Linked DNA regions of Homo sapiens. The protein of the gene in region 2 interacts with the protein of the main gene of each other region in a biochemical or structural test. Each region holds a gene or a part of one and is shown on either strand. Other genes may lie near its edges.

Region 1 (4,255 bases), about 10 Mb from region 2:
AGACATAATGGTTAAGGTCTTGTAAATATCAAGGAAACGTTCCATCCTCATCACGTCTTTCATTTCAGAATGTGAGGTGGTGAGGCCGGAGGCAGTGGCTCACGCCTGTAATCCCAGCACTTTGGGAGGCTGAGGCGGGCGGATCACTTTGAGGTCAGGAGTTTGAGACCAGCCTGGCCAACATGGTGAAACCTTGTCTCTACTAAAAATGCAAAAATTAGCTGGGTGTGGTGGCGGGTACCTGTAGTCCCAGCTGCTCAAGAGGCTGAGGTAGGAGACTTGCTTGAACCGGGGAGGCCGAGGTTGCAGTTAGCCGAGATCCCGCGACTGCTCTCCAGCCTGGGAGACAGAGCAAGACTCCGTCTCAAAAAAAAAAAAGAAAAAAAAGAAAATGTGGGGTGGCAAATCTTTTTTGCAGAGCCTCCTATATAAAATCCTCATAAATGATGCAGTGGAAGCTGGGCCCGTGAGCCTTCTGCCTTGACTTGAGTGAACTATTGAAACTCTTTTGTTGACTAGAGATACTTTATCTGTGGTAGTAAATGTAAATTTTCCTTATTGAGATCCACTTTTAAAATTCTTTTTTTTTTTTTTTTTGAGACGGAGTTTTGCTCCTGTTGCCCAGGCTGGAGTGCAGTGGTGCGATCTTGGCTCACTGCAACCTCCGCCTCCTAGGTTCAAGCAGTTCTCCTGCCTCAGCCTCCTGAGTAGCTAGGATTACAGGCATGCGCCACCATGTCCGGCTAATTTTGTATTTTTAATAGAAACGGGGTTTCACCATGTTGGTCAGGCTGGTCTCGAACTCCTGACCTCAGGTGATTCGCCCACCTTGGCCTCCCAAAGTGTTGGGATTACATGCGTGAGCCACTGCGCCCGGCCTAAAATTCTTAATAGACAGGTAGTTAGGTTGTAGTTCATGTTAGCTGATCAATTAAACTTTTTTTTAAAAAATGTTTTAGTTATCAGGAGGGTCCAGCTTTGGCCTGAGGTTGTGCATTGGCCATTTCTGCTCGAAACCAGTAGTAGTCAGACTTAAAACATGTGCACACCTGCACACACAGCAGCAACTAGAAAGCCTTTAGAGAGAAATATGCAGAATTTCGAAATGTAAAACAGATAAAAGGAGTAAAGCTGTTTTGTGGAAGGAAGAATAGGCAGTTGTTGAAGTCCTGCCTGATCAGTTTTCCTCTCATCCTCACCACCAGGAAGCCTTTGAAGCACAGCTGAAGAACAGTAGGTCTTGGAGAAATTTTTGCTGTAGACCTGCTCTATCTTAACAGGTAGCTGCCAGCCACATGTGGCTATTTAGCACTTGAAATGTGGCTGCTGTGACTGAGAAACTGAATGTTAAATTTTACTTAATCTAAATTTAGATAGCCATATGCAGCTGATGGCTACTGTATTAGACAGCACAGATACCCAAGGACATTTACATCATTGTATAAAGTTGTGTTGGGTGGCACTACTCTAGACTTTGCTTTAATTGAGCTTTTATGGCCTGAGGACCCCACTCACGTGAATTGACGTGGTATTAGTTGCTGCTTCAGAAGAGGGTCAGGATAGACTTTGGGAATTTGAAGAGCAATTAGAGTACTTGTACTTTATATTTGTGCTGATTTGAGTCTGGGCCTGTGTAGTGTTGTCATAGGTGCTTTTTTTTTTTTTTTAATAATCTGGGAATGATAAACCAATATGTAAGTTACGTGTTTACAAGTTGATTATAGAGTTGTGGATTCCACAAAACTCATTATAGGTGATAGGAATATAACTCTTAGTTAAAAAAAAAAAAATAAGTAGTCTCTTTACACAGCAGTCCCTATTTAATGTGGACTTTTGCTAAAATAATAATTTTCTTGAATTAAATTCAAGCTTGCATTAGGTTTGACAGTCCATAAAGTTGAACACATGAATGTTTTCTGTTTGCTTTTGTTTAAAAGACATGACCCATCATTCTCCATGGGGGCCGACCTAGGTTTCCAGTTGGCAGTGTCTTTCCTTACTAGCTTACGCTTTGGAGAGAACATAGTTGTAGTGAGAATTGAAAAATCTGTTTTTAAAAAATTGGGTTTTATGTATTTTAATTTTTTTGAGGTTTTCTATTATCCTGGTTACTAATGAATTATTTATTTGACTAAAACAGTTATACAATTCCAGGTCATTGATGCTGCTGTTTTTTTCTCTGCCTTGTAGTATGTTTGAACATAGATTGCTAAAAATCTCGGTCTCCACAGAGGATTGGTTCCGGGACTCTCCTGCAAGCACCAGAATATGAGAACGCTGAAGTCCCTTGTATAAAATGGTGTAGAATTTGTTTTATGCACATTTTATTGTTATTCTTTAAATCCTCTCTAGATTACTTAATATCTAATACAATGTAAATAGTTGTTATTCTATATTGTTTTAGAAATGATGAGAAAAAAGTCTGTACATGTTCAGTACAGTCACAGTTTTTTCCTGAATATTTTTTATCCATGGTTGGTTTAATCCATGTATTTGGAACCCACAGATAAGGAGGATTGACTGCACAGTGATTTTATATTATTTCTAGTGGGACCTTAGATGTTCTAGATGAGGCAGCACCATCATATTTAAAGTATTTTTGTTGAAATAATTAACTTTGGTTTTCTTTCTAAATAAAAATTCACATAGGTATTTGGGGAATATTTTGTATTTTCCTGCAGTTTGAAGATTTGAAATTTCTCTTCCCTCCATACCTTTTAAAAGTGCAATCTACTTTTGCTTTCTACATTTAATCACTATCTGTTCTTGACTTCAACTTTGCAAACATATTTTTTAACCATTCTTTTTCACATTTCCCTTCCTACTGGCCTTCCGGATGAACTGTCAAGTTTAGCAGTCTTTTCTCAGTGATCATACTTTCTTCAGTGTTTGCTGTTATTGTTTATACTGTCTTTATCTAAATTTCTTAAAATGACACAGACACAAGTTAGGCCCATTCTTCTTACTGTAAACAGATGAAAATGTTGGATAAAATATAAAAGTTTTCTCTTATGTATACAGTTGATCTTGAGAGAGAAAGTGCCCAGGTACTAGAAACTTAGAAAAATCAGTCAACTTTAAGGGAAGTGTGGCCTTGGGGGATTTACTAGAGATAAGATTCAGTAGTTGGGGCTGAGGTTATAATGCCATTCAATGAAAGGAGACAGAACTGTGGGAACTGTGTGCTTAAAAAAATTAAAAAATGAAAAGTGTTCTGGTATCATTGAAACATCTGGGGCTTCTTGGAGAAAGAAGCCTCAGACCTCTCTATGGAGGAACTGGAAAAACAGTAGGCTTTAGATGGACTTTAATATCACAGCAAGGCAAGGCAGGGTACATGAAAACATCTACAGCTGCATGTGGAATAGTGAATTTTTGTATACATAATCCATGACTGCAATCCAAAATTCAGGGATACCCAGTGAAGAGTCTCTTTACTGGTCTGTTCTTTGCCATACAGTTGCCTTTTCAAAGGCAAGTAGCTTTACTAGGTTTTTGTGTGGTGTTCCAGAGATTTTATGCATCTATGAACAATTTTGTGTGTATATTACCTTTTAGTACAAGTGGTCACATATGTCACTTAATAGTACATCTTATTTTGTGTCAGTATGTAATGAATGCCTTTCTTCTTTTTTGGAGTAGTGGGTTGTATAATATTCTTTTGTATGGGTGTCTGTAAATTTTTTTTTGAGACAGTGTCTCACTCTGTCACCCAGGCTGGAGTGCAGTGGTGTGATCACAGCTCACTGCAACCTTGACTGCCAGGGGTCAAGTTAATCTCCCACCTCAGCTACCTGAGTAGTTGGGACTGCAGGCGCATGCCTACCATATCCAGCTAATTTTTAAAATTTTTTGTAGAGGTGGGGTTTCGCCATGTTGCCTAGATTTGTCTTGAACTCCTGGGCTCAAGCGATTTGCCTGCCACGGCCCCTCAAAGTTTTGGGATTACAGGCGTAAGCCACTGTGCCTGGCCGGGTGTCTGAATATATCATCAGTCCTCTGTTGAATGTTTCCAGTCTTGTGGTATTAAAAACAATGCTACAACAAATAACTTCGTTTATATAGCATTTTGCTCCTTTGCAGGTATGTCTGTAAGATAGATTTCTAGGAGTAGTTCAAAGAATATCTACATTTGTAATTTATTTTAGAGAATGTACTTTATTCATTTTTTCGAATAACACATGCACATGGTATAAAAGTCAAGGAGAACAAAATAGCAAATACTGAAAAAAGTAAGCCTCCTTTACATCTCCTA
Region 2 (4,255 bases):
CCTTTTGATTAATGCCCATAGCTATTAGAATTATTGTAATCCATTGTAGCTATTTGTAGTAAAAATGAATTTGGACCCACCTTGGGCTTGGTTACATGTAGTGACTAGAAGAATCTTGGTAGCAATATCCTAAGCAAAGCACCATTACCTACCTTTGCTCAACAGCATGAGAAAGGAGTACTGAAAAGGTAGATCCTCATGCGACCTCTGCAGAAAAGTGGCCAGGAGCAACTCACAAAGGAAAAAATCCTGATAGCTAATATGTATATGGAAAAATATTCAACTTCATAAATAAGGATCATGCAGATTAGAGTTTGTATTTTGGGGACAAATAGGGATAATTGCTACTTTCTCTGCCTCACAGAGTTGTGAAACTAACGAGGGAATTCTTGAGAAAACACTTCATACATTTTAAAATATATACTATTTTTTTGATGGCTCCACAGGTGTAGACATGTCCCCACACTCATCAAGAGGTGTACGTTAAACATGAACAGCTTTTTAATGTGTTGATTAGACCTCAATAAAGTGATTTAAAAGAGAAACCATCTTTGGTGGCAGTGTCCCAGAAACTAAAACAAAAGGTATAACTTGCTGGCTCTTCACTAGTCTAGAGCAACAAGGGAAAAATGCAGTTCTTTTTCTGTTGTTGTTTGAGACAGAGTCTCACTCTGTCACCCACAGTGGCACCATCTCGGCTCACTGCAACCTCCGCCTCCCAGGTTCAAGCGATTCTCCTGCCTTGGCCTCCTGAGTAGCTGGGATTACAGGCGCCCGCCGCCATGCCCAGCTAATGTTTGTATTTTTGTGAAGATGGGGTTTCACTGGCTTGGTCAAGCTGGTTTCAAACTCCTGACCTCAGGTGATCCGCCCACCTCAGCCTCCCAAAGTGCTAGGATTACAGGTATGACCCACCACGCCCGGCTGAAAAATGCAGTTCTTAATCCAAGTTCGGGCTCACATGTAGTTTTGGGAGAAGGCAGAGGCATAACTGCCCCATCAAGGAGGCAGCAATGCCAAAGGGAGAGGCTGAGCCAGGAAGGACACAGCAGAACTTGGCAGAACCTGAGGAGCGCCTCCTTCCAATGGGCATAACTTCTAGAAGGCAAGAGGAAAGTTAGTTAAGGAAAAAGAGTTTCCACCACAACCTCTGCTAGCAGGCCCTTTATTGGGATACAGTATAAGTTCATTTCAGAATGTGTGAGAAAACTTTAAAATTTGTGTTTTAGAAAGAGTCTATAATGAGTGTTCTTGATAAGTACTATATTTCAGTTAGTCTGAAATGACGATTTCAACTTTTGAGATACTGACTTGTGACATAATTTTTGTTAATGGGATATGTTATCTTATTGAAAGTATCTGTGAGAGTTTTCCCTGAAAAAATTTTTGGCATTTAAACTTGTACACTAAAAGCCTCTGACTAGTATTTCCCCCAAAGTATGATTGCCTATAATTTACTGCAAAAAAAAAAGTTTTCTTTTTTCTTTTTTTTTTTGTTTTGTTTTGTTTTGAGATGGAGTCTCACTCTGCTGCCCTGGCTAGAGTACAGTGACATGATCTCTCAGCTCACTGCAACCTCTGCCTCCTGGGCTCAAGTGATTCTCCTGCCTCAGCCTCCTGAGTAGCTGGGACTACAGGCACGCATCACCACACTCGGCTAATTTTTGTGTTTTTAGTAGAGGCGGGGTTTTGCCATGTTGGCCAGGTACGTCTTGAGCTCCTGACCTCAAGTGATCCGCCCGCCTTGGCCTCCCAAAGTGCTGGGATTACAGGCATGAGCCACCATGCCCAGCCCAAAAAAGTCTTCCAAATTGAATCAAAACTTTTAGATCCTGAATTGAGAACATCACATGACAAAAAATAGGGTATGATGTTTTGGTGTTCTTCAGACCCCGGCTGACTTGAGAGGTTATCTCCTGATGTTATTAGGATTTTTAAAGTAGGGTAAAGGAGGTAAATGCAGTGTCACGATTTTGAGATTCTGTTAAAATGAGCTAGAAAGCAGCTGAAAAAAATTCATGTTGGATCAGGTGTACTTTCCTCCAGATGACAGCTTTGAATTTGTCCCTTTTGTAGTCTTTGGTCAAATTGCTGGTGACCAGAAGTAGCTGCCTTGTCATTGCTGGACTTCTAGAAGGATTGGGACTGCCCAGCTGCTGTGTGAACTTGCCTGTCACCTCTGCTTCCAGAGGTCTGACTTGTCACTGTGGCAAATGGGCAGAGGACTTTGATTTCTGTTTTTTATTAAACACTGAGGTATATTTTGAAATGTATGCCTGAAAGATGCTCAAAATGGTGTGACTAATGCATTTTAAAACTGCATTTATTTGATTGAAATGAACCTTAACCTATACTTTAGCCGTAATATGGTGGGAGAATTCTCACATTGGATGACCAGCTAGTTGTCAGTGTTTGACGCTGACACTTTAGTGGCCATCTGGCCCTCCGTGAGCATTGAACTGTCATGAAGGGCCCGATCTCAACCACTTCTCTTCTTCTCTTTCCCCCTTTCCTGCATGCTCAGGGACGTGTCCTCGGAGTCGGACAATAACATCAGACAGATCAACCAGGAGGCAGCACACCGGCGCTTCCGCTCCCGCAGGCACATCAGCGAAGACTTGGAGCCCGAGCCCTCGGAGGGCGGGGATGTCCCCGAGGTACGATGTCCCCAGAATGGTGCAAAGCCCGGCAGCTCCTTCTTCCCATGTTCTCCAGCTTGATTTTATATCATAATTTCTTCTGTCAGTAAACATTGTTGAGAATGTAAAGATTACAGTGACGCAGGGAATTAATTACCATCTGAATATTAATTTGAAAGTGCCTATAAAAGCCGTATTTGACAAGTATAGGTGGCTCTATATTATAGAAATGGGAATAACATTATTTTTATTTTTATTTTTTTTGAAGACAGTGTCTTGCTCTGTCGCCCAGGCTAGAGTGCAGTGGTGCAGTCTTGGCTCACTGCAACCTCCGCCTCCTGGGTTCGAGCAATTCTCCTGCCTCAGCCTCCTGAGTAGCTGGGATTACAGGCACGCATCACCACACCCGGCCAGTTTTTGTATTTTTAGTAGAAATGGGGTTTCACCATGTTGGCTAGGATGGTCTCAATCTCCTGACCTCGAGATCCGCCTGCTGCCTCAGCCTCCTAAAGTGCTGGGGTTATAGGTGCATGCCATCACAATGGCTAATTTTTTTTTTTTTTTTTTTTCCTAGTAGAGACGGGTTTCACCATGTTGGCCAGGCTGGTCTTGAACTCTTGACCTCATGATCCACCTGCCTTGGCCTCCCAAAGTGCTTAGATTACAGGCGTGAGCCACTGTGTCCAGCCCACATTATTTTTCAGTATGAAAATCTTAAGATATTTTTAGTTTGTAATTTATTTTTCACAGGGGTCTAACCATGTCTCATTAAATGACAGCTTGTTTTTATCATAGTTGAGCTGTTGAATGAGCCCTGTAACTTGTTTGGGTATCATATGCATATTTTTATTGAGTCGCTTTGACACTTGGAAGAGATTTATTACCATGAAAATATAAATTTAGGTGAACAGAAATGTGTAATTTTCCCTTTAAATAGTTATGGTATGTTACTTAAAACGTTATGAATTAAACAACAAATTAGCCATAATCTTCCATGCTATCTTACCAGCTCTGTTTATGTACTAAAAATCCATTCTTCTTAGACATTGTGTTAGGAAGATCATTTAGAATGCGGCGATTCAACTTGGAAAAGCAAAAGTAATGATTCCATAACACATTCACTCTAAGTTATTTTATACCATTGTTTAATTACAGCGTATAGCTTCTATGCTGCTCCCACGGTGAATCCTCAGTGGTTAAAAGTAAAAGAAAATCCATGACAATTGTTTATAAACTCCAGAGAAGTGTGTGTGTGTGTTTGTTTTTTTGCCCACACATATAGTAACAAGTGCTGGAAATCAGTCACTGTTCAGAGAGGCATTGTTATAAAGTGGTTAAGAGCACAGCCTCTGTCTGGAACCAGGCCTCTTTGATTCACATCATGGCCCTACCACTTGCTAGATGTTACCTTGGGCAGGTTATTTTCTGTGCCTCAGTTTCCTCATCTGTTAATTGGGGGAGTTATCTTCCTCGTGATTATTGTGAAGGTTGTGTGCCTCATGAGAGGCACTTAGTAGGTGTTAATTATAGTTATCACCGGGGCTATTGTTGTTACATGGTTTCATTGGGGAGCTGGGTGGATCCCTACTTCTTTCTAGTGTTTACCCCAGTGTCTC
Region 3 (4,478 bases), on a different chromosome or scaffold from region 2:
TGAAATCCCCCAGGGGCTGAAGCATCACTGAGGTGTTACCCTATTGGGCGAGTATAACTCTAAAGTGAGGAAAGGGACTTTATCCACATTTTCATAGTTGTTGTGGAATGGGGTCAGTAGGCTTGGCTCACTGGAAATCAACTGGACCTTGTTACCTTGAGAACTTCAGCCCATCGGCATCAATGTGAGCTTTAGGAGGGTGCAAGATTTATGAGAAGGAGCACAGTGCCCAGTGGACATGACATTGTCTAAAAGAGGATGGCACCCACCTTTCAGTTTCCTAGACTTATTCCTGGACACAGGTAAGATTTACCCTAGTCCTCTTCCAAGTGTCTGAGGGGGTATTTTTTTCTGCTAGAGCAGGGGAGAAGGTAGATGCCAACCCAACAAATATATTCTCTACCTTATCCAACCCACTCAGCAGTTCTGAAAAGCAAGGTATTATCTCTATTTGACAAATGAAAAGACTGTCCGTTAGAGCAATGGATCTGTAATAACCCCAGATTGACTTCTCCAGATGAGTCCCACAGGTAGGTAATGTGAATTTTACCTATCATTTTAAGTTCTGACAACAAGAACGTTAAGTGTCTCTACTGAACTTCATAAGTTCACTGGACAGTTATTCTCTTTGCTTTTTACATACTGTTCTGATTTTTTAAAAATATTTTATTATTTTTGTGAGAAAAGTAATTTGTGTTCTCTGGGAAAAGAAAGATTAGTAGAAAGAAAACAAAGAAATGAAATCACCTGCTAGCTCACAACTCAGAAAACCACTGTTAACCTTTCATGTATTTAACAAAAACAGACAGATTCTGTAGATGATATTATAAGCTGCTTTATTTTTCCACGAATCATGACGTCTCTGCAATGCACATGTGTGAAAATCTGCTACTGAAACATAGAGCAAGCAAACACTGGCAGGTGGGTCAAAACGCTACTGGTAGCAGGAGGAACGACTAAAGCAAAGTATTACCATAAGGTTAAAACATATGGCCTGACAAATGCCTGCCAGGGACACTACACATAAGGAATGTCTTCAGTGTCCCTTCGTGGGGCCCTGCAGCCACCCCTGAATTCCCTTGGACCCCTAGGATAGAAGGGGTCCTGTAAATTTCTTTGCATCCACAAAAACGCCCCCAATTTCTGTTTGCTTTTTCTCCTTTTATCCTCCACCCTAGCCATGTTGTCAAATTCTCTTATCATGTCCTCATTGCTGAAATTCATATCATGTATGGCTTCCTTATATTGCTTGAGGTACTGAGCCAGCCCCTTGTTGGTTTTTCTTTTGGCTTTCCTGGGTATATCATCCTCAGCTGGGCGCTTTCCTGCAGCCCTTGTTTCACTTTCTGGCTCTCCCTCACTCTCTGGCTCTCTTTCACTGTCTGGCTCTCCTTCACCCTCTGCCCTTCCCCCTCTCTCTGGCTTTCCCTCTGTCTTTGATCCTCCCTGCATCTCTGACTTTCCCTTCCTCTCTGACTTTCCTTCTCCTTTTGCCTTTCCCGCACTCTCTGGCTTTTCTTTATCCTTTAACGGTTCCTCAACTCTCTTGCCCGTGTTTTCTGTGTTTCCCTCGTTTTCTAACTTCTTGTCTTCCAGAATACAAGCTACTTCTGGCTTTCCCTCGTGCGGTGGCTGTTCTTCATTGTCTATCTTTCCTTGATTCGAAGGCATTCCTTCATTTTCATTGAAGAGTTTTTCCATGTCGAGATTTCCCCTCCTTTTCCTTTCCTGGGGGATGGGTGTGGAGGGAAGAGGAGACAAAGAGGAGACATGGGAGACTGAGGGCATGGGGTGGAATGCAGGTCTGGATACTACTTGCATCTCACCCCTGGTGAGGGTTCCCCTAAGCTGACTGGGCCTCCAAGAGGGCCTTCTGCCCACCACGTAGCCCACCACTCCTCCCACACACGTGAGCCAGCTGTTCCCTGGCAGGCCCTGCCACCTTCTCTGCACTGGTTCAGCCTGGTAAGGTGTGTGTTCATGTAGGTAAGGGGATGGGCAGGGGCCCCAATTCGGCCCTGACTGTGCCCTCCACACTCTCAACCCTTGTGGGCCCCTGTCCATGCAGCCCCCTGCTTTCACGGACCTGCGGGGATTCTGGACAGGTTGCTCTTCCTTTTCAGGCCTCTCAGAGCGCTGGGAACAACAGACGCGCAGACCTGCGGACAGACAGGAGACAGGGGCAGGGGCTGCGCGCTTAGCGGGCTCACAGGGACTCGGTTCCCTTTCCTGAGTCCAGGCCCTGCTTACCCACCGTTTTCCTCCCCTACCTCCCCCGCACCCCAGCCGCCATTTCTTTCCAGGCCTCGGGCACCAAACCAGGATGCTTTCCAAACTGCGTTTGTCTCTGTGTCCCCCTTCCCCGGAGGCAACCTGCCCCAGCGCCACCTCATTTTTGCGGAGATCAAGTGTTTCCATGGGTGTAGATTGTGAGAAGGGGTTATTTCCAGAATATGTCTACGTTTCACTGTCGCACTGCGGGGTCGCTACCCCCACCCCCCATTTCCAGCACTAAAATGGATGGAGGACTCAGTGCAAGGGGGCGTCGAGAAGGCGAGCCAGGCTTGCTTCGGGGGTTCTCCCTCCACTGCCCCCGCCCCCGCGACTCCGCATCCCCCTCCTCCCCAATCTACCGGATCCCTTCTCCGCCCCCTCCCCAATCCTACTGCCAGCCCCCTCCACCCCTGTCCCAGGGTCCGCCGGCAGCGCACGCCTTCACACTGACCTGCGGGGACCCAGGACAGGCCTGTGCCTCCTGCGGCTCGCTGAAGCCCGCTCGCTGCTCCCCCGCCGCCTGGGCAGCTCAGACAGCTGATTCTGCGCGGGCGCCCGGACCCGACCGCTGGGCGGGCTGGCGGGCGGGCGCGGGGGCTGGTGCCCACGTAGGCGCCGGGCGGGTCACGTGAGCACCGCGTCACCGGAGCTCTGCCCCCGCTCTTGCCTGACACACCTCACCTTGGAGCTGGGCCCCCCTCTCTTTCCTGACATACCTCACCTTCCATCCCTGAGGGACCGGAGGCTGGGGACGGTCGGAGTCTCGGTGCGTTTGTGTAGCAAAGTGGGGTCGCGGAGAAGAGGAGGAGAGGTGGCTTTCTGACCCTAGGTGCTTTACCTGACGCAGCTCACAGCATCCTCGCAAGGCATATCTCTCTGATGCCCATTATCGCCAGGTGTGACAGCTGATCATAGAGGTACCGGACTTTGCCAAGAGCGCTCAGCCCCAGAACTCCACAGCCCACTTTCAATACCGGCTCTGCCTGACTCCAGAGCCCGGGGGGTAGTGGTGCCTGCCAGGAAGCTGAGCTGCCACCTTGAGTGGCGGTGTTCCTGGGGTTCTGTCCTGGGCCTCCTCTCTCCTCAGTCCTCAAGTTGTCTCTCCCTGTGTGATCTCATTCATTTCCAGTAAACACCGATGACTCCCAGATCTACAGCTCCAGGCTGTTCCCTTCTCCGTGTCTCATATCAGCTTTGCCAACTGTCTATTGGACATCACCGCCTGAGTGTCCCTGAGGGACCCCAAAGCCCGTGTACCCCAAATTGATTTACCAACTTCCTTCTTGCCATCTCCCTTGGTCTCTCTCCACACTTGAAACTTACCTTCCAACATTTGATCAGTTTTCATAGAGAGAGAATGTCAGACAGGTAGAAAAGAAAGCATTAAAACATTTTAAATATGAATTTCAGATGCACAAATTCATCATAGTCCTTGGTTTACAACACACCCTTATCATCGATCCCTGCTTGTCCCTCTTCCTTCCCTTTTCTTTCCCGTCCTATTATTTCCTCCCCTTCCCATCCTTTGTCTTTTTTTTCTTTCCTTTTCTTTCACATTCGTGAAGCCACCACCCACAAAAACTAAGAATCACCAATATTTTAGCTTCTACAGTATAGTGACATGTATATGTATATATACACATGTTTATTTATACACACATATATGTATAGATGTATATGTGTGTACATATGTATGTGTATGTCTTGTGTATATCTGGGCAACAACTATTTTTATTTTGATTTGCAAAATACCTTATCATGATTACAGGATTATGAATTATGTGTGTTACACAAGCAATTCTGATTATATTTCTGCTACACATCTTTCTTCATTTAGTAAAACCTTGATCTTCCTACAGTATTTTGCTCTATCAATATGTGTATTCGTCATTATCACCACATCACCAATAATTCTGTCCTCAATGTTGAATTTTTTTCCTGAATTATCGAGGCTAGGTGTTTCAATTTCATCAGTATAAACTTCCATAAAATTATTATAATTATTCAAGAATTTGATGAAAATAATATCAAATCAGTTGAAAAGAACTGATTTTCTGTTTTAATCATCTAATTATAGTGATTTTAAGCTGTCTTCAGTAACTATTTGCTAAGTTATTTTGCTAATGGAGCCAAAGTATTAACAACTATTTCTCCTCTTTTAAAACATATACACAAAAATGTGGGATTCAAAATTAGTATCATTA
Region 4 (3,853 bases), on a different chromosome or scaffold from region 2:
AGAGGGAAAAACAAGCATGGTCTTTTAAATCAGTAAGGATGAAAATCAGAATCCCAGCTCTGCCAATTCCGGACTGTGTGACCTTGAGCAGTAGTCCTCTTGGGACAACCAAATTTTCTTATTTGCAAAATGCAGCAGTTAGTCTAAGTCCCTTCCAGTTCTAGGTATCTAGTTCTGTCTCTCTCTCTTCCAACCCCCTTTCCTCCTCACCTAGGAATGCTTTGAAGAGGACCCAGGGCGCAAGTGGATGGACAGCTTGCTCAGTAACTTGGGGTGCCAGTCTGCCTCTCATGTAGGGCCCTTCATCGATAGCTACCGCTGCTTCCAACCAAAGCAGGAGGGGGCCTTCACCTGCTGGTCAGCAGTCACTGGCGCCCGCCATCTCAACTATGGCTCCCGGCTTGACTATGTGCTGGGGGACAGGACCCTGGTCATAGACACCTTTCAGGCCTCTTTCCTGCTGCCTGAGGTGATGGGCTCTGACCACTGCCCTGTGGGTGCAGTCTTGAGTGTGTCCTCTGTGCCTGCAAAACAGTGCCCACCTCTGTGCACCCGCTTCCTCCCTGAGTTTGCAGGCACCCAGCTCAAGATCCTTCGCTTCCTAGTTCCTCTCGAACAAAGTCCTGTGTTGGAGCAGTCGACGCTGCAGCACAACAATCAAACCCGGGTACAGACATGCCAAAACAAAGCCCAAGTGCGCTCAACCAGGCCTCAGCCCAGTCAGGTTGGCTCTAGCAGAGGCCAGAAAAACCTGAAGAGCTACTTTCAGCCCTCCCCTAGCTGTCCCCAAGCCTCTCCTGACATAGAGCTGCCTAGCCTACCACTGATGAGCGCCCTCATGACCCCGAAGACTCCAGAAGAGAAGGCAGTGGCCAAAGTGGTGAAGGGGCAGGCCAAGACTTCAGAAGCCAAAGATGAGAAGGAGTTACGGACCTCATTCTGGAAGTCTGTGCTGGCGGGGCCCTTGCGCACACCCCTCTGTGGGGGCCACAGGGAGCCATGTGTGATGCGTACTGTGAAGAAGCCAGGACCCAACTTGGGCCGCCGCTTCTACATGTGTGCCAGGCCCCGGGGTCCTCCCACTGACCCCTCCTCCCGGTGCAACTTCTTCCTCTGGAGCAGGCCCAGCTGAACCAATGGAGGCCTGGGGACATCTGGCATGGTCACCCCTGCACATGATCTGAGGCCAGCTCCCCTTCCCTGAGCTGCCTCCTGCTTCTCCCTCAAAGTCTCCTACCCTTCTCTTCCTCTTTTAAGCCCTCTCTTCCTCGCTTTCCTTCCTACCTAGCTCCTTGTTGGTGAGCTTCTTGTGCCTTAATCCTGTGACCCAGCCCCTTACACCACTTTCCACCTTCCTGTCCGAAGTACACGGACACTAGCTGCCCCAGGAAGTTGTGTGATTTTAAATCACTTCTGTCTTTGCTGGAAAGTGTATTTGTGCATAAATAAAGTCTGTGTATTTGTTTCAGGGTTGCACTTTGGACATTGTGGAGGTACTCCATAAAGTTGAGTCAGAGAAGCTATCTCAATACTTGGTTTGCCGGCTGGCTGTAGCCCAATGATGTAATTCCCAGAGAAAGGGGAGGAGGGAGGGGGGAGGAGGGAATAGTGAGGCGTGAGCAGCAGTGCTCACCATAAAGGGTTCTCTGCTCAGTTGTAGGAATTTCCTGTACGGCTAAGGTGAAATCAGCAAGGAAGGTGGGCTGTGTAGCCTTAAACCAGAGCTTTCCAGCTAGTGCGTCCCACAGCTGCCACAGTGGGTTACAGGGTTGAAAGAAACGGTCCTCAGCCCTCAGAGTTGCCAGGCAGGGCCTGGGACCACACAAGTTTCAGGGACGATTGCCTCCTTAGCAAGTAGTATCATTAGTACCCCTAAGTGTGCCATGGAAATGTTTCCTGTATACTGTGACCTGGAAAGTGGGAGCATTGCTTTGAACACAGTGCTTGCTCTAGCCAAGCCTCTTCTCACCTTTGAAAATGGGACTGGTAGACCAGGCACAGTGGTGCACGCCTGTAATCCCAGCACTTTGGGAGGCTGAGATGGGTGGATCACCTGAGGTCAGGAGTTCGCAACCAGCCTAACATGGTGAGACCCCGTCTCTACTAAATACAAAAAAATTAACTGGGCGTGGTGGCGCGTGCCTGTAATCCAAGCTACTTAGGAGGCTGAGACAGGAGAATAGCTTGTACCTGGGAGGCGGAGGTTGCAGTGGGCTGAGATCATGCATTGCACTCCAGCCTGGGCAACAAGAGTGAAATTCAGTCTCCAAAAAAAAAAAAAGAAAAGAAAAAGAATGGGACTGGTAAATCCTGTTCTGTGGGATGCCGTGGGAGGGAGAGAGGATAATGGATTGAGGAAGACATCCATATCCCCTTATGGAAAATACCTCTTTGGTTTTGGGGAACCACTCCTTTCTAGGGAATTTGGTTAGGGCTGACTCATTTCCTGGCTTCAGGGGCTACCCTGGGCCCAGATTTCCAGGGCCCGGATTACCAGTGAAGCGTCAATCCCTGGATTTTTATTGAAACCATTGGAGAAGAGCCATCTCAAATAAATCTGCCAAGTATCCTAGCTCTTTGCAACTCACTGTGTAGTTTTTGGGCATTTCCTTCCTCTTTCTCATTCTGTTTCCCTGTTGGTAAAATGGAATGGTGACCAACAAGTGACCTATGGTTACCTCATAGATCTGCCACTTGTCTGAGGGAGTCAGAATGCACTTGTCTGTTCCCTGTCCAATAAAAGGCTTCACATGCTGTGGTTTGTGCTTTATTTTTAGGCTCAATTCAGCTAGAGGCACACAACAAAGCAGAAGACAGGAGTAGGCCTGGACCCAAGTGAAGCGCAGGTGGGGTGTGAATCCTAGGCAGCTGGCTTCTCAGGCATAGGTGGTGACATACTGGGGCCCCATGTTCCCGAAGTAGGAACGTTCCCACTCACTCATGAGCTCAAAGTGTACAGGACGGCGACAGAAATTGCAGGCAGCCACAGACACATCCTGGAGGGGCAGCCCCACCGCAGTCCAAGCCAGCAGCAGCTTCTCTGAAGGTGGTAGGGGGAGGGGAGGGAAAAAATGGGTTAGACTAGATCTTCCAAATCTGTCACAGTACAGATGAGCCAAGATATTGATCCCCCTCAACCCTTCAAGATACCTCAGGGCCAGAAGTAGCCTACTGTTTGCTTCTGTGTGTGCCGTGAATATTACCATTTGTATCTGGATGCTGGGATATATATTATAAAAGATTTGGAAGCTCTCCTTTGACACAATTTGAAGCCATACTGTCCTGGCCTGGACCACTCCCTAAGTATAGGATGTGCTGTGGCCCAAGAATGACTGTCTGCTTGGGAACTCTAAGCCCTATGAGGACAATGATAATGACAGTAACTATACTGTGTCATTGGTGCTATGACCAGGAAACCTGGGGTAGGGGGTCCACCTGGGGGTGTGAAAACCCAGAGAAGGGAACCTGACCTAGCTGGAGGAAGTACCCCAGGTACGTTCCAGGGCTCTGTTCTTGGCCTTTTCTGTGTTCATGCCCTTGTTGATCTTGTCTAGTCACATGACTTTAAAGACCATCTATATGCTGATGGTTCAGAAATTTTAATCTCCAGCTCACGCCACTCTACTGGTTTCCAATCTTGTATATCCAATGGCTTTTCTCCATCTCCACCTAGATGTCTAATATGCATTTCTAACTTAGGAGTACAACTGAGCTACTCATGTCCCTACCCTCCACCAAGCTATTCTACTTTTAGCTTTTCCCATCTCAGTGGATGGCAATTCCAGTTGCTCAGTCCAAAAATTTCAGAGCTATCCTTTATTTTTCTCTTTCTCTCTTACCCTATATCCCATCT
Region 5 (4,255 bases), on a different chromosome or scaffold from region 2:
ATGGCGTGAACCCGGGAGGCGGAGCTTGCAGTGAGCCGAGATCGCGCCAGTGCACTCCAGCCTGGGTGACAGAACAAGACTCCATCTCAAAAAAAAAAAAAAAAAAAAAAAAAAAATTCTTAATCTCTTTTCAAGTTGTTTAGCTTTTCTCCTTTTCTTACCAGGTGTATGTGACTGCTGAGAGCCGCTTCAGCACCTTGGCAGAGCTTGTACACCATCACTCCACAGTGGCTGATGGGCTGGTGACAACATTACACTACCCAGCACCCAAGTGTAATAAGCCTACAGTCTATGGTGTGTCCCCCATCCACGACAAATGGGAAATGGAGCGAACAGATATTACCATGAAGCACAAACTTGGGGGCGGTCAGTATGGAGAGGTTTACGTTGGCGTCTGGAAGAAATACAGCCTTACAGTTGCTGTGAAAACATTGAAGGTGGGTTGCTGAGAATTACAGTTTTCAGGCATCTTTTTCTTTTGTGCTCAATCACTTGGAAATATCAGCATGCCCTTCTTTAACTTTGGAACACTTTCCACCCACTAGTGCCAAGCACATCAGCAAATTGAGATGATTAACCCTAGTGCCATTGCTGACAATGCAGAGGTAGATTATTCACTGCAATGCAGTGAAACCCACATGTGGGAAAGGTCTGTCTCTGGAGGCTGTTGATGTAGATCTTAGTGGGAGGTTAGAAGCAAATTAAAAGTTATAAAAGCAAAATAAGCTCTTTTGCTTCCTGAGAACGACCCCTGCTGGACAGAATTCTTGTCTGAGAGTCATGGGCCTCTTTCTTGTTCTGTCCTTTCTCTCCCTTGTTCTTGTTCCTCCTGTCTCTTTGCAGTTAGATCACTTCTTAATATTAACAGAAATCTTTTTCGTAGTACTACTATATGTCTCCTTTAAACATCCCAGTATCAAATTATAAGGTTTTCACTCACTTGATTCTCCCAGAGCCTCAGTAACTGTCTCTGGTGTATCACTTATAAGGGCTATTCTTTAGCTATTAAGTAGTAGTCAGTTCTGTTTCTTAAGCATATTCTGAGTGTGAAGCAATATATAAGGCCTTGCTCTCTAAGAAGATTATGATCTAAGCAAGAAGATAAGTATGTAAGCAGCTAAGTGCTCTGTCTCGTCATTCAAAGCCTGAGATATCTGGAGAAGTAAACTATGAGAGAACTGAACTATCCAATACAGGGCTCCTGTGTTTCAGTTGATTATAGGACACGATTGCTGAATTTTGCTCCTCCTGCTAATTTTTACTCCAGGGCATTTTTCTTTCTAAGTTGGACTTCTTAAAATAATAATTATTTCAGCTGGGCGTGGTGGCTCACACCTGTAATCCCAGCAATTTGGGGAGCTCAGGTGGGCGAATCACCTGAGGTCAGGAGAGCATCCTGGCCAACATTGCAAAACCCCGTCTCTACTAAAAATACAAAAAGTAGCCAGGCATGGTCGTGCATGCCTGTAATCCCAGCTACTTGGGAGGCTGAGCCAGGAGAATCGCTTGAGCCCAGGAAGCGGAGGTTGCAGTGAGATCACACCACTTCACCCCAACCTGGGTAACAGAGCGAGACCGTGTCTCAAAAAAATAAATTAAATTAAAATAATAATTATATCTTGTAATATGCTAAAATATTCAAAAGATAGTTTTTACTTTTAAAGCTGAAGCTTTATGATTGTGAGATGAATGAAATGATTTTAAGTTGAGGGTTTGTCCCTCTCGTTTTCTTCTTTCTTACCTTTCCCTTTTTCTAGGAAGATACCATGGAGGTAGAAGAATTCCTGAAAGAAGCTGCAGTAATGAAGGAAATCAAGCATCCTAATCTGGTACAACTTTTAGGTGAGGAACCTTGCCTGAACCATAGATTTCCTCCAAAAATGCTTGCCCTTTAACCCCTTGTTATCTCCAAATGCTTTTTTTTTTTCTTTTTAAATATAGAGACAGGGTCTCGCTCTGTTGTCCAGGCTGCTGTTGACGTGATACTTCCGCCTGGGCCTTTCAATATGTTGGGATTACAGGCATGAGCCACCATGCCCCGCCTTTTTTCCTCCCCCAAACCTTTCTTTTTAGTCACCATGGTGGAAGCTGCAGGTTTGAATCCACTTCAATAAATAGTTATTTTAATCAGTAGGTTCTGTGTTTAAAAATAGCCCAAGAAACAGTGGCCTGGATTGATTTTGGTGTATAAAACTGCTCAGTTTGTACTAATTGCCCCAGATTCAAAGTTCAGAAGTGTTCAAAATGGTACTGAACCAAAAACTCATGAAATGTTTTTGCAAAATAAAGAGACATTAAACAAAGGACTGTTGAAAAGAAGCAAATTAAAAACTGTGACCACACCCCTCAGTTTACCTTTACAAGCAGGAAATGCTTTATTATGTTAGATTGGCTTTTCACTGTTCAGGTCACAAAGAACTCTCTTACTAAGCCTTTTTCCTTTTTTAAAATAGGGCCAGGTTTTTTTTTTTTTCTTTTTTTTGGGGGGGTGTGGGGGGTGTTTTTTTTTGTTTGTTTTTTAAATACAGAGTCTTGCTCTGTCACCCTGGCTGGAGTGCAGTGGCATGATCCTGGCTCACTGCAACCTCCACCTCCCAGGTTCAAGCTATTCTCGTGCCTCAACGTGCATCACCACGCCCAGCTAATTTTTGTAGTAGAGACAGGGTTTTGCTATGTTGGACAGTCAAGTCTTGAACTGCTGGGCTCAGGCGATCTGCCTGCCTCAGCCTCCCAAAGTGCTAGGATTACAGGCATGAGCCACTGCACCCGGCCTCTTGTTGGTTTTTTATAAGGAATCTGCCATATATCAGTGAAATCCTTGACTATGGAAATGATGAAAATCATTTTGCAAAGCAGTATTGCAGGTGGGGCTCACATAGTCTTCAGCTTGTGCACAATTGCTATTACTTTTGAATAAGTATTGTTAGCCTGCAGTTGAGGAGGAGAATCATGGGCCATGTGCAAAACTCTAGACATGTTGGTTTTCTTGGCCCCTTATAGAATTAATACAGGTAACTCTGCTTTTGCTCAAATAGACAAATACTCAGAGGCATATGAATTCCCAGAGAACAATACAGTGAAAGCAAGGACTCCCTTATAAACCAGCTTCTTAGTTTTTGCTTATTAATTTCAGAGAACGTGGTGGTAAGAAGGGAAAAGATTATTGCCGAACTAGACCTGAAAAATTGTCAAATTATTCTTGGCCAAAGTGGTTTGGAGTGTTTGAATGTACACTAATAAAAACAAGCACTATTGTTCAACTTTTAGGTGTGTGTACTTTGGAGCCACCATTTTACATTGTGACTGAATACATGCCATACGGGAATTTGCTGGATTACCTCCGAGAATGCAACCGAGAAGAGGTGACTGCAGTTGTGCTGCTCTACATGGCCACTCAGATTTCTTCTGCAATGGAGTACTTAGAGAAGAAGAATTTCATCCATAGGTGTGTAAAACTTACCTCTGACCAACCATGAAGCCATCTTGCTTGACATGCAGATAAAAGGAAGAATGTGAGAACCTTCCCAGAAAATTTCAGATGATTCAAGAAAGTAATTTTGTATTTCACAGGGCCCATTATAATGTCACTTCTAACTTGTAAACCTACTGTACTCTGATTAAAGTATTAATAAGGGGCCTTTGCTATTCTCAAACCTGAGAACTCTCTTAAAAAAAAATTGCAATAGTGATGGGGTCTTGCTATGTTGACCAGGCTGGTCTCAAACTACTGGCCTCAAGTGATCTTCCCATCTTAGCCTTCCAAAGTGCTGGGATTATAGGTGTGAGCCACCATGCCTGGCCAGAGAGCTCTCTTTATTTTGCCAGCACTGTATCCAAGATCCTTTTTCACCATCTAGTGGCTTTTTTTTTTTTTCCTTCTTGAGACAGGCTGGCTCCATCGCCCAGGCTGGAATGCAGTGATGCGATCTTAGCTTACTGCACCCTCAGCCTCCTGGGCTCAAGCCATCCTCCCACCTCAGCCTCCTGAGTAGCTGGGATTACGGGAATATGCCACCATGCCCGGCTAAGTGTTTTTTTATGGTTTTTTTTTGTTTGTTTTGTTTTTTGTTTTTTTTTTGTAGACTGGGTTTCGCCATGTTGCCCCGGCTGGTCCTGAACTCTTGAGCTCAGGAGATACACCCACCTTGGCCTCCCAAAGTGCTAGGATTACAGGCGTGAGCCACCACACCTGGCCTAGTGGCTGAATTTTTAAAATAGTTTTCTGCATTAGTAAATAACTTAGTCTTGTAGAAAA
Region 6 (5,051 bases), on a different chromosome or scaffold from region 2:
TAGTTTTTTTTTAAATGTGTGTGTGATTTAATTAATTGCTGTCTCTCCCACTAGACTTAAATTCCAGGAAAACAGACTTAATCTGTGTTTTCTCTCTGCTGTATCATTAGTTTCTGGCACAATTCTGATACAGAATAGATGCTTGATAAAAATGTGTTGATATGGCTGCTCCTGTCATTGTGTTTGTGACTTTGGCTACTAGAATTCTGTCTCTATCGAACACTCAGGCATTGTGTTGTGAGAAGGAAAAAGCTGAAGCCATTTGGGCTAGCCAATCTGGCCCCGTACTGAGGGTCACCAGAAAATTTAGAGCATTTTGAAAGCTAAATGCTGAGTAAGAGGCTGACACATTGAACAGTAGCTTTCAATTGACATCTGGGATGGAAAGAGTAAGAGCAAGTTTATTCTAAAAGACATGAGCTAGGGCATGGATGCAGGACCAAACACATAATTTGCAGGGTCAAGTACAAAATGAAAATGTGATCTCTTGTTAAATATTTTTACCGAATTTCAAGATGGCAGCATCAGCGCGGGGCCCTGTGTGACTGCACAGGTTGCACATCCATGAAGCTGTTCTTGCAAACATCTACAGCTAATTTTAAAAATCTGAACAGAAGTTTGCAATTTTGTTTTAAAAAATTGAGGGTATTTTGTATTAATGGGGGAAAAGAGGCTTTTAAATATCTAGGTGTGTTTCTTTTCCCTGCACACTGAGGTTGTCTTCAAAAGAAACTGGACCCTCTGTATCTTTATTCAGTGGGGCTATTCCTATGTTTCCAAAAGATTTAGTAAGGCAGGCTGGTTTGCCCCTCTGTGAACAGTCCTCAACTCTTGCTATACTGCAACATCCAATTGCTCTTCAGCCAAGACCTGGCCTAGATTTGAGGCTCCACAGTCGGAAATGCATGGATTTTGAAGCCCAAATGTGTTCGAATTCCAGTTTCACCAATTATAGTTTAGTGACTTAAAGCAAATTACTCAGTCTTCCTACAGCCTCAACTTCCTCATCTATAAAATGGAAGTGATAATCCCTAGACGCATAGAGTAGCTGGGAGGATTAAATAAGGTAAAAAGAAAGGGTTTAGTACAATAAGTGCACAACAAACGAGGAACAGGTGTCCATATACACACTGCATTATCTCTCTGCTTTAGATCAAAGCTGAATGGAGAAAACGCAGTGCCCGTGAGTCAGGGGACCCCCACTCCGACCCCTGCTCTCTGTCACTGAACCCTATAAATAGCTTAGCTAAGTCACTGTCTCAGTCACTATTCGTTGGGGTGAGGAATGAGGGAGTTGTTGCAAGTGGCTCTTTCTGGCTATATCATTCACAGATTTTCTATTCTTTGGGGTTTGGGTCTGAATTTTCAGCATCCTCTCTGAAGAATCACCCCCACCCAGTGCCGGCGTGCGCCCAGCCTTCCCCCAGCCCTTTCCAGGGCGCTGCCCCCTGCCTGCCCTCACTACTCCAGGCGCTGGCCGCGCAGCCCCGCCCTGGAGCTGCCTCCCCGCCTCCTTCCTCCTCCTGCGGGCGAGCAGAAGCCCGCTCGCCCGCTGCCGAGTGGCAGTCACGACTGTGAGGTCGCCGGCGAGGTGGCCGCGGGCGCGGCGGGGCGGGGCAGGGCGCACTCTCCTCCACGCCCGCGGAAGTGCCGGGGAGGTGGGCAGGGCGGGGAGGGAGAGGGAGCGAGGCTGGAGGAGGGCACGTCGGCGCCTCGGCGAGGATGGGAGTCCCCAGGACCCGGAGCTGAGCAGCCTGGCGCGCGGCGGGCAGGGCGCGCAGGACAGAAGCCTCGCTGTTCCTCCGGGAGCCCAACACCGTTCCCGCGCGGCCACGATGATCCCTCCGAGCAGCCCCCGCGAGGACGGCGTGGACGGGCTGCCCAAGGAGGCGGTGGGCGCCGAGCAACCGCCCTCTCCTGCATCCACCAGCAGCCAGGAATCCAAGGTACCGAGCACGCTTGCCCCCAAGAGAACACAAACTCACTCTCCTCTCCTGTCGGTCCAGCTTTGTCTCTCCTCCTATCTAGCACGGGCGTGGGGGTCTGAGACTTGCTAGTTAGCCCAGGGCTGTAGGACTTGAACGTCCGGTAGGACCCGCTGCTCACGATGCTGGACCACGTCCCTGTGGACCCAGCCTTCCCGCCCACACATTCACACACGCAATTCATGGTGGCTCCGGGTTCAGAGATCGATTTCTTGCGGGGTGGTAGCTTGGTTTTTTTTGTGCTTTGAACCTGCTTGTGTCCAAAGCACGTGTAGGTAGGTATTAGGTGGCTTCTGAAGGCTGAGGGATGGAGACAGCCGAGGGATACTCTTCCAGAAAAGCTTGAGTACTGGGCCAGAAAAGCATGTATGTATCCCAAGGGTCTCAGAGACCTTTTGCTTAACAGGGATCACCCCTACCTTCAGATACTACTCACTAAAAAAGAAAAAGAAAAAGAAAGGGTTTGCCTGCGTTTGTCTGAAAGTTGATGTTCCTCTTGTGAAAGTTAATACTCTAAGAACCTATACTTGCTTTTATGAAAGTTACACTAACACGTATACAAAAAACCAAGCCCGCAGCAGTTCTCCTGTCACTGTTACACTTCCTCTGAAACTCCCGTGGGTGCCAGGCACATGTTTGAAAATCTTGGAAGAGGATAGAGTAAAATGTGGCTGCTAGCAGTGCAATGCCAAATGGCAACTCAGCTGGTGGTGGAAATCCTAAGATGGAGTTTGTAGTTATGTGGATTCTTTTAAGTGTAGAGCTCCTGGCTCTTTATTCTGATTTCATTGTGCGATCCCCAGGCATTTGGGGAATGTGAGGCAGTCCGTGTATACCAGCAAAGGAAAGGGGTTGCCAGTTTATAGGATAGGGACAGGCCAGATGGGGCAAGGAAGACTGCGATCCTGTCTCTCTTCACATGCATCCCTGGAAGCCATTGATATGATCAGGAGGATGAAAATCACAGCCTGAGTGGCTCTGGGGATTTGGTGTGATACTGGGCACTGTACATTTCCCAGCCCCCTGAAGTTAACCATCAATGATGGTAATCTAAGCCCGAAAGCTTTACATCTTATTTATTTTTATTTTTTTCCTGTTACTTACTGGCTGCCAGACCTGGGGTATGTGTGTCAACTTTTCTAAAACTCGGTTGGAAATGAGGGAAAAAGCCCCAACTTCCAGAGACATTGTGAGGAGTACATGAGAGGCCCTAATGTCCACCTGGTATACTGTAAGGACTCAATCATGTTTATCCTTTTCCTTCCTGAGATAAAGAGATGGAATCTATCTCATCTCAAATGATCCACTCCAAAGCAATCTGATAACCCATACACATGCACTACCTCTCCTCAGTCAAAAAGTTTCTGGGTATCATTGCCTCCCATTGAACATCAGTCCCCAGAGTGATATAGGTTAGTGGCCATTTTAGAGGAAAGCTAGAATTCTATAAATGAATGTAGCTGAACTCAAGAGTAAAACTAGTATTGAACTTTTTGAATTGGCCTGTTGCTCTGCAGTAGGCGTGTTCTGGAAAGGGCTTAGCATTTGGGCAAACAGTGGCATGGTTCAAATGCATTATATGGATTTGCTATTTATAGATGTCCTAATGGAAATTATTTGGCAGAGCAAAAGCCACATATGTAATGCCCATAATTATCCACCAATTTATCTGGCTTATGGTTTTGTACAAATTAGTTTTTCTCAAAGTGGTCTATACACCGGATGTGTGTTTCTACATTCCTAAATTTGATGTCATGGCCTCAGTAAGCTTAATTAGTGGAGATGAACTATGGCAGCCCATGAACCCTAGGAAATTGAATGCAATATTGTATGCCTACATGTGAATTTTTCTTGGCATAGCATTCATGATATTCTCAAAGTGATCCATGCCCCTTAAAAAAGGCTAAACTGCTAGTAGGGAGGAACGTGTGGTAAGGTAAGGGAGTAGGATGGCATGACACTGGAGGAGAGGAAGGCTCAATTCATTCTATTCTAGGAAGGCCACATGTTAAAGCTTACTGGCGTTTACAAGGATCTTTGACCCTGAGCATGAGAGCTTGGTGAGGAAAATGTGAACAAGACAGTAATATGCATTCCATCTTACTCTTCCATGAAGTGGTCTTGTTTGTAAAATATCTTGTGGGACAAACATGGTTCAGGCCCCCTTGGCATTAAACTCTCTCAAGGAAGACTTAAAGTTACTTTTTTTAAAGAGTTAGGTTTTTTTGTCTTATTATAAGAGTAACAAATACTCTTTGTAGATATTTGAACAGTCCAGACATAAATGATGAAAAGAAAAATAAATTAGCTCTTGGTTTACCATCCAGAAGCATCTACTAATAAAACTTTGATCTATATCTCATGTCTTTTTAAATCTGTTTATATATTTACATAGTTGAGCGAGAACAATAGTGAGCATCTACTGAATGTTTACTGTAAGTCAGATACAACCTTAATCTTCACAATAGAAGATTCTGTTAATATTTCTATTTTATGGATGGGGAAGTGGAAGCCAAGAAAGGTTAGATCATTTTCACTGTGAAAATTTATTATGGAAAATTTTAATATACACAAAAGTAGAGAAAACAGTATAAAGAACTGTCATGGACCTAATCATGTGGCTTCACAATTAATTCATGGACAGTATTGTTTTATGTATTACCACCACCACCACCACCCTACACATACTGGATCATTTTAAAGCAAATTCCAGACATGAAATAACTTCACCCGTAAATATGCTATCAGGTTACATCTCTCAAGGATAAGGGTTATTTTCATTTTATTTTCATAAACATGACTATAATCCCAATTAGCACATATTTCAGGTGTTTTAAGCTAAGGGCCACTATATTCTTTAGAAGCCCACAAATAGTCTTTGGAAAATCTGTGAACAACCCGAACCAGCATTCAAAGTTGTCCATGTACATGCATATATGCATCATCTAGGGAAAGAATTTATAGCTTATCTCAGGTTCACAAAGGGTCTATAGCTTCAAAGGTTATCTTAATGTCCTTTTTCTCTTTCTTGAGGAAATTGAGGCCCAAAAAGGGGCAGTGACTTGC
Region 7 (4,255 bases), on a different chromosome or scaffold from region 2:
TAGAAAAGCAGAAAATACAGGAATAGTAGAAAGCCAAAATAAGGTGTCAGAAATAGTCCATGTATATCATTAGACTAATCTTGCTAGTAAAACTTAACAGTAATGGTAAGACTAGATGTAAGAACAGCTATATACAATTTGAGGAAGGAACACATGAATATTAGAACATAGAATGAATGTATAAGGATAGAAAAAGATACAACCATAAATCACTAACCAAAGGAAAAGACATACCAGGCAAACACTAGCCAACATTAAAATGTAATGTTAATATCAATTAAAATAACAGAGACTGCTGTTTTCTCCTTCCTTTTATTAGTAGACCTCTGAATTTGACTAGCCACTCAGCTAGAGATGGATTTCCTAGCCTGTCTTGCAGATAGTGTGGCCATCTTTAAGTTAGGACCAATGGAATGTGAACAAAAGTGATGAGTACAGTTTTCTGATACTCTCCTTAAAGACAAAATTGCCTGTCTTCGTTTTTTCTCTCCTCTTTGAATTGAGTGGAAAAGCCAACTGGCAGGAATGTTGTTACCTGTGTAGAGTTTGGCAATACCAATCAGGGAGTACAGCTGACTACCAACCCTAGGCTGTACATTTACCTTTAAGTTTTATCTGCTAGAAAAATAAACTTATTTTTAAACTTCTGTATTCTGAATTTCTGAATGTTACGTTCCTTTCTCTCTACAACCTCACCAGCATCTGTTATTTTTTGACTTTTTAGTAGTATTAATTCTGACTGGTGGGAGATGGTATCTCATTGTGGTTTTTATTTGCATTTCTCTAATGATCAGTGATGTTGAGCTTCTTTTCATAGAATTGTTGGCTGCATGTATATCTTCTTTTGAAAAGTGTCTGTTCATGTCCTTTGCCCACTTTTTAATGGGCTGGTTTTTTTTTCTTGTTTAAGTTCTTATAGATGCTGGATGTTAGACCTTTGTCAGATGCATAGTTTGCAAAATTTTTCTCCCATTCTGTAGGTTGTCTGTTCACCCTGTTGATAGTTTCCTTTGATGTGCAAAAGCTCTTTAGTTTAATTAGATATCATTTGTTCATTTTTGCTTTTGTTGCAGTTTCTTTTGGTGTCATCATCATGAAATCTTTGCCTGTTCCTATATCCAGAATGGCATTGCCTAGGTTGTCCTCCAGGCAACCTATATAACTATAAATGTTATAGTTTACATTTAAGTCTTTAATCCATCTTGAGTTAATTTTTAAATTTGGTATGAGGAAGGAGTCCAGTTTCAATGTTCTGCATATGGCTAGCCAGTTATTCCAGCACCATTTATTGAATAGGGAATCCTTTCCCCATTGCTTGTTTTTGTCAGGTTTGTTGAAGATCAGATAGTTGTACGTTTGTAAGTGTGTGGCCTTATTTCTGGGTTCTCTATTCCGTTCAATTGATCTGTGTGTCTGTTTTTGTACCAGTAATATATATTGCATGTAGATACCACATATGTACTAAATATGTAAGAGATTTTATGATTAATAAGTGCTTGTTGGTCATTGCCTTATCCTGTGAGGAGATGGCACTTGAGTTGTGGAGTAGCAGTAGGTTATTTTTTTCAGAGAAGATTTCTCAGATGTAGTGACTATTTAATTTGAGTGATGAAAAGAGAGCACAGGTTTTCTAAGCAGAATTCATGCACTGAAATTAATGTACTAAAGTGTATTCTCTTGGCTCACAGAAAAGCCGCTCTAATATTCACTTAGAAACTTTTGACTTATTCAGTACATAATTTTAATAAGCTTAGTTGGCTTCTAATAAATGGTATATTACAAACTGCCAAATGCAGATGCACAGGCAGTGATAAGAAACAACAACCAGATGTGATGTATAAGGCAAGAAAAACCACCAGTGGATGCATAGAAATTAAAACCAAAAATAGACTAGGGCTAAATGTTACATAAAAGCAATGAATCCTGCATGCCCTAGTAACTCTAGATAGCAAGCTGTACAATATAGTAATTAATGGTGGTCCCCAGGTCATCCAGATGTTTGTGTTTGGGCTCAAGTACCCAGGAAAATTTACGATGTATATTTGCAAAAAACTTCATCAGTTTTTCAAAAAGATTTGGAAATTAAAGGAAATAATTTTGTATGCAAAATTAACCTATTTGGAATCACATGTTTCTAAATCATGCCTAGTAAGTGATGAATTTCTGTATTTTACTTATTCATCAGACATTCTTTGAGAGGTTATTATGTGTTAGGCATAATCTTGACACTGGCCACACAAAGGTGAATCAGATACTTCTGTGTCATTCACTAACACGATGCCTTGCATATGGTATATAGTAATAAATATATGTACGTTAAGACAGAGAAGAAAGTGCTAATTTGGCTACTAATCTCTGCTATAACTTATATCATTTTGAAAATTACCACAATTAGATACAGAGAGGGTGAATACTATTAGATTTGGAATTTCAATTGAGTAGCACAGTAGAGGGCTTTTAGCAGTATGTATTAAAAACAATTCAAAAAGTTTAATCCCTTTAATTTGTAATCCTAATTCTAAATTTAAAAATCTTAAGAATGATTAAAAATAAGCACAATGCTTTTAAATGATACTTTGTTGGCATTATGTATAATAATGAAGATACTTTAATGTACAATAGTAGAAAATTTTTTAATTATGTTATATTCATCCATCAGAATTTTAGTTTGAGAATATTATGGGAAAAAGTTCATGCTATATATTGGTAAGGTACAAAATTGGCTACAGGAAAGTATGCAAAAATACTGAGTGACTATTTTATGATATTGGGATTATAGGTAATTTTTTCTTTCCTTTTTCTTCATTGTTTCTTTCCTTTTTATTCTACTTTCTAAATTTTTTACATAAACACATACTCTTTTAACTGTAAAAAAATCAAATGCTATTTGTAAGATAGCTGTTTTTCCATTCTGAAATAGATTTTTTTGGAAATAAACTTTTATCTTGGGAGATTAGTAGGTACTACAATGGATTTCTGTGGATATTATCAATGACCAAGGCTTGAACTTTGTTTAAAGCCACAATAATATCACAAATTCACCCTGAACGATTTTGTCACCCATTAAAAATGACATGTTTAATGCATGTTCTTGTCTGTAAAGTTGAAGCAATGAATAAAAAGTATATAATATTACTAAAGCCATAGATAAGAACTCACAAAAATGAAATAGAGAATTTTTATGTAAATACTTAATGTTCTCTTTTGCTTTCATGAATTTGCAGCTCCTCAGTGGGTAGTGCACTTCCACGAAGACGCTGCTGTGCATATATTACCATTGGAATGATATGTATTTTCATTGGAGTTGGGTTAACTGTGAGTGTTACACTTTGATGTTAGAATTCTGTCCTCTCAACTTTATCAGTAGTCAATCATGAGGCCTGGGACAACCTTCAGGGATTCCTGAAGAGGCTGCCTCCTTGGCATGCCAGCACTAGAAGCTTCTGAATGATTATGAGCAATCAGAAACCCAATCCATGGACCTCTTTTTGATTGAACTCGCCCATCCAAGTGAAACGGTGTCTTTTTACCTCCAAAAGTCCTTACTGTTGGGGATTTTATCATCTATTTAGCAAAAGCCCATTTAAAAAAAAATCAGTGCCAGAACTAATTTTTATGGCTATGGGGTCTCTTATTATTCAAAGCAATATTCATTCAGCTACAGAGATCTAAAAAAACCACTCTTCTCTTTATCCAAATCAAGCAGAGATTTATTACCAATATGAGGATGGCTTGTTTTTAGAGAAGACTGGAGCTAAGCAGTTAGCATGGGGATTATGCCAGAAGAGGAAGATAATCTCTTTGGCTGCCATTTCCATGCTCCTTTGTTTGTCAGTACAACTAGTCCCTTATTATTAGCAATGTCCTATTGTGTCCCATGATAGTAAGAAGTTACATGGATTAAATTCCTTGTAGAGATAATATAGTTTAGTGTGCTTTTTTGTTTACTTCATAACATTTATAGTTACTACAAGTAGCAGTATGGTCTATCAGTTGCAGTCAACAGATACACCTACTCTTATAAGGACTTTGTGTATTCGGTCTGGGGGTATATTTCATAACAATCACATGTAAGCTGATACAAGTTCCCTAAGCAGATATTTTTTAAAGTTTCTAATATTTTGTTTTTATATTGCTTTTTATTTTAGGTTGGCACCCCAGATTTTGCAAGGCGATTTCGAGCAACCTATGTTTCTTGGGCAATTGCTTATCTCCTAGGATTGATCTGCCTTATCCGAGCTTGTTATTGGGGAGC

Evidence for each region.
Region 1: the proteins of NEDD4L (region 2) and SMAD2 form a complex in vitro, tested with the Homo sapiens proteins (one study listed by BioGRID).
Region 3: the proteins of NEDD4L (region 2) and TCEAL2 form a complex in vitro, tested with the Homo sapiens proteins (one large-scale study listed by BioGRID).
Region 4: the proteins of NEDD4L (region 2) and APEX2 form a complex in vitro, tested with the Homo sapiens proteins (one large-scale study listed by BioGRID).
Region 5: of the proteins of NEDD4L (region 2) and ABL2, one has a biochemical effect on the other in vitro, tested with the Homo sapiens proteins (one large-scale study listed by BioGRID).
Region 6: the proteins of NEDD4L (region 2) and STAC form a complex in vitro, tested with the Homo sapiens proteins (one large-scale study listed by BioGRID).
Region 7: the proteins of NEDD4L (region 2) and PIP4P2 form a complex in vitro, tested with the Homo sapiens proteins (one large-scale study listed by BioGRID).

What each region holds. Positions count from the first base shown.
Region 1 is NC_000018.10:47,920,591-47,924,845, reverse strand, and holds part of SMAD2 (mothers against decapentaplegic homolog 2), read left to right. Parts: intron 1-4,255. UniProt on the Homo sapiens protein: Receptor-regulated SMAD (R-SMAD) that is an intracellular signal transducer and transcriptional modulator activated by TGF-beta (transforming growth factor) and activin type 1 receptor kinases.
Region 2 is NC_000018.10:58,326,471-58,330,725, forward strand, and holds part of NEDD4L (E3 ubiquitin-protein ligase NEDD4-like), read left to right. Parts: intron 1-2,524; coding exon 2,525-2,657; intron 2,658-4,255. UniProt on the Homo sapiens protein: E3 ubiquitin-protein ligase that mediates the polyubiquitination of lysine and cysteine residues on target proteins and is thereby implicated in the regulation of various signaling pathways including autophagy, innate immunity or DNA repair.
Region 3 is NC_000023.11:102,124,054-102,128,531, reverse strand, and holds TCEAL2 (transcription elongation factor A protein-like 2), read right to left. Parts: upstream 2,854-4,478; 5' UTR 2,726-2,853; intron 2,160-2,725; 5' UTR 2,087-2,159; intron 1,729-2,086; 5' UTR 1,702-1,728; coding exon 1,018-1,701; 3' UTR 820-1,017; downstream 1-819. UniProt on the Homo sapiens protein: May be involved in transcriptional regulation.
Region 4 is NC_000023.11:55,006,304-55,010,156, forward strand, and holds the end of APEX2 (DNA-(apurinic or apyrimidinic site) endonuclease 2), read left to right. Parts: intron 1-214; coding exon 215-1,132; 3' UTR 1,133-2,754; downstream 2,755-3,853. Other genes in the region: ALAS2 (5-aminolevulinate synthase, erythroid-specific, mitochondrial isoform a precursor), read right to left, coding at 2,877-3,040. UniProt on the Homo sapiens protein: Functions as a weak apurinic/apyrimidinic (AP) endodeoxyribonuclease in the DNA base excision repair (BER) pathway of DNA lesions induced by oxidative and alkylating agents.
Region 5 is NC_000001.11:179,117,777-179,122,031, reverse strand, and holds part of ABL2 (tyrosine-protein kinase ABL2), read left to right. Parts: intron 1-164; coding exon 165-437; intron 438-1,757; coding exon 1,758-1,842; intron 1,843-3,267; coding exon 3,268-3,445; intron 3,446-4,255. UniProt on the Homo sapiens protein: Non-receptor tyrosine-protein kinase that plays an ABL1-overlapping role in key processes linked to cell growth and survival such as cytoskeleton remodeling in response to extracellular stimuli, cell motility and adhesion and receptor endocytosis.
Region 6 is NC_000003.12:36,378,809-36,383,859, forward strand, and holds the start of STAC (SH3 and cysteine-rich domain-containing protein), read left to right. Parts: upstream 1-1,695; 5' UTR 1,696-1,835; coding exon 1,836-1,946; intron 1,947-5,051. UniProt on the Homo sapiens protein: Promotes expression of the ion channel CACNA1H at the cell membrane, and thereby contributes to the regulation of channel activity.
Region 7 is NC_000008.11:90,995,714-90,999,968, reverse strand, and holds part of PIP4P2 (type 2 phosphatidylinositol 4,5-bisphosphate 4-phosphatase), read left to right. Parts: intron 1-3,224; coding exon 3,225-3,315; intron 3,316-4,148; coding exon 4,149-4,255. UniProt on the Homo sapiens protein: Catalyzes the hydrolysis of phosphatidylinositol-4,5-bisphosphate (PtdIns-4,5-P2) to phosphatidylinositol-4-phosphate (PtdIns-4-P).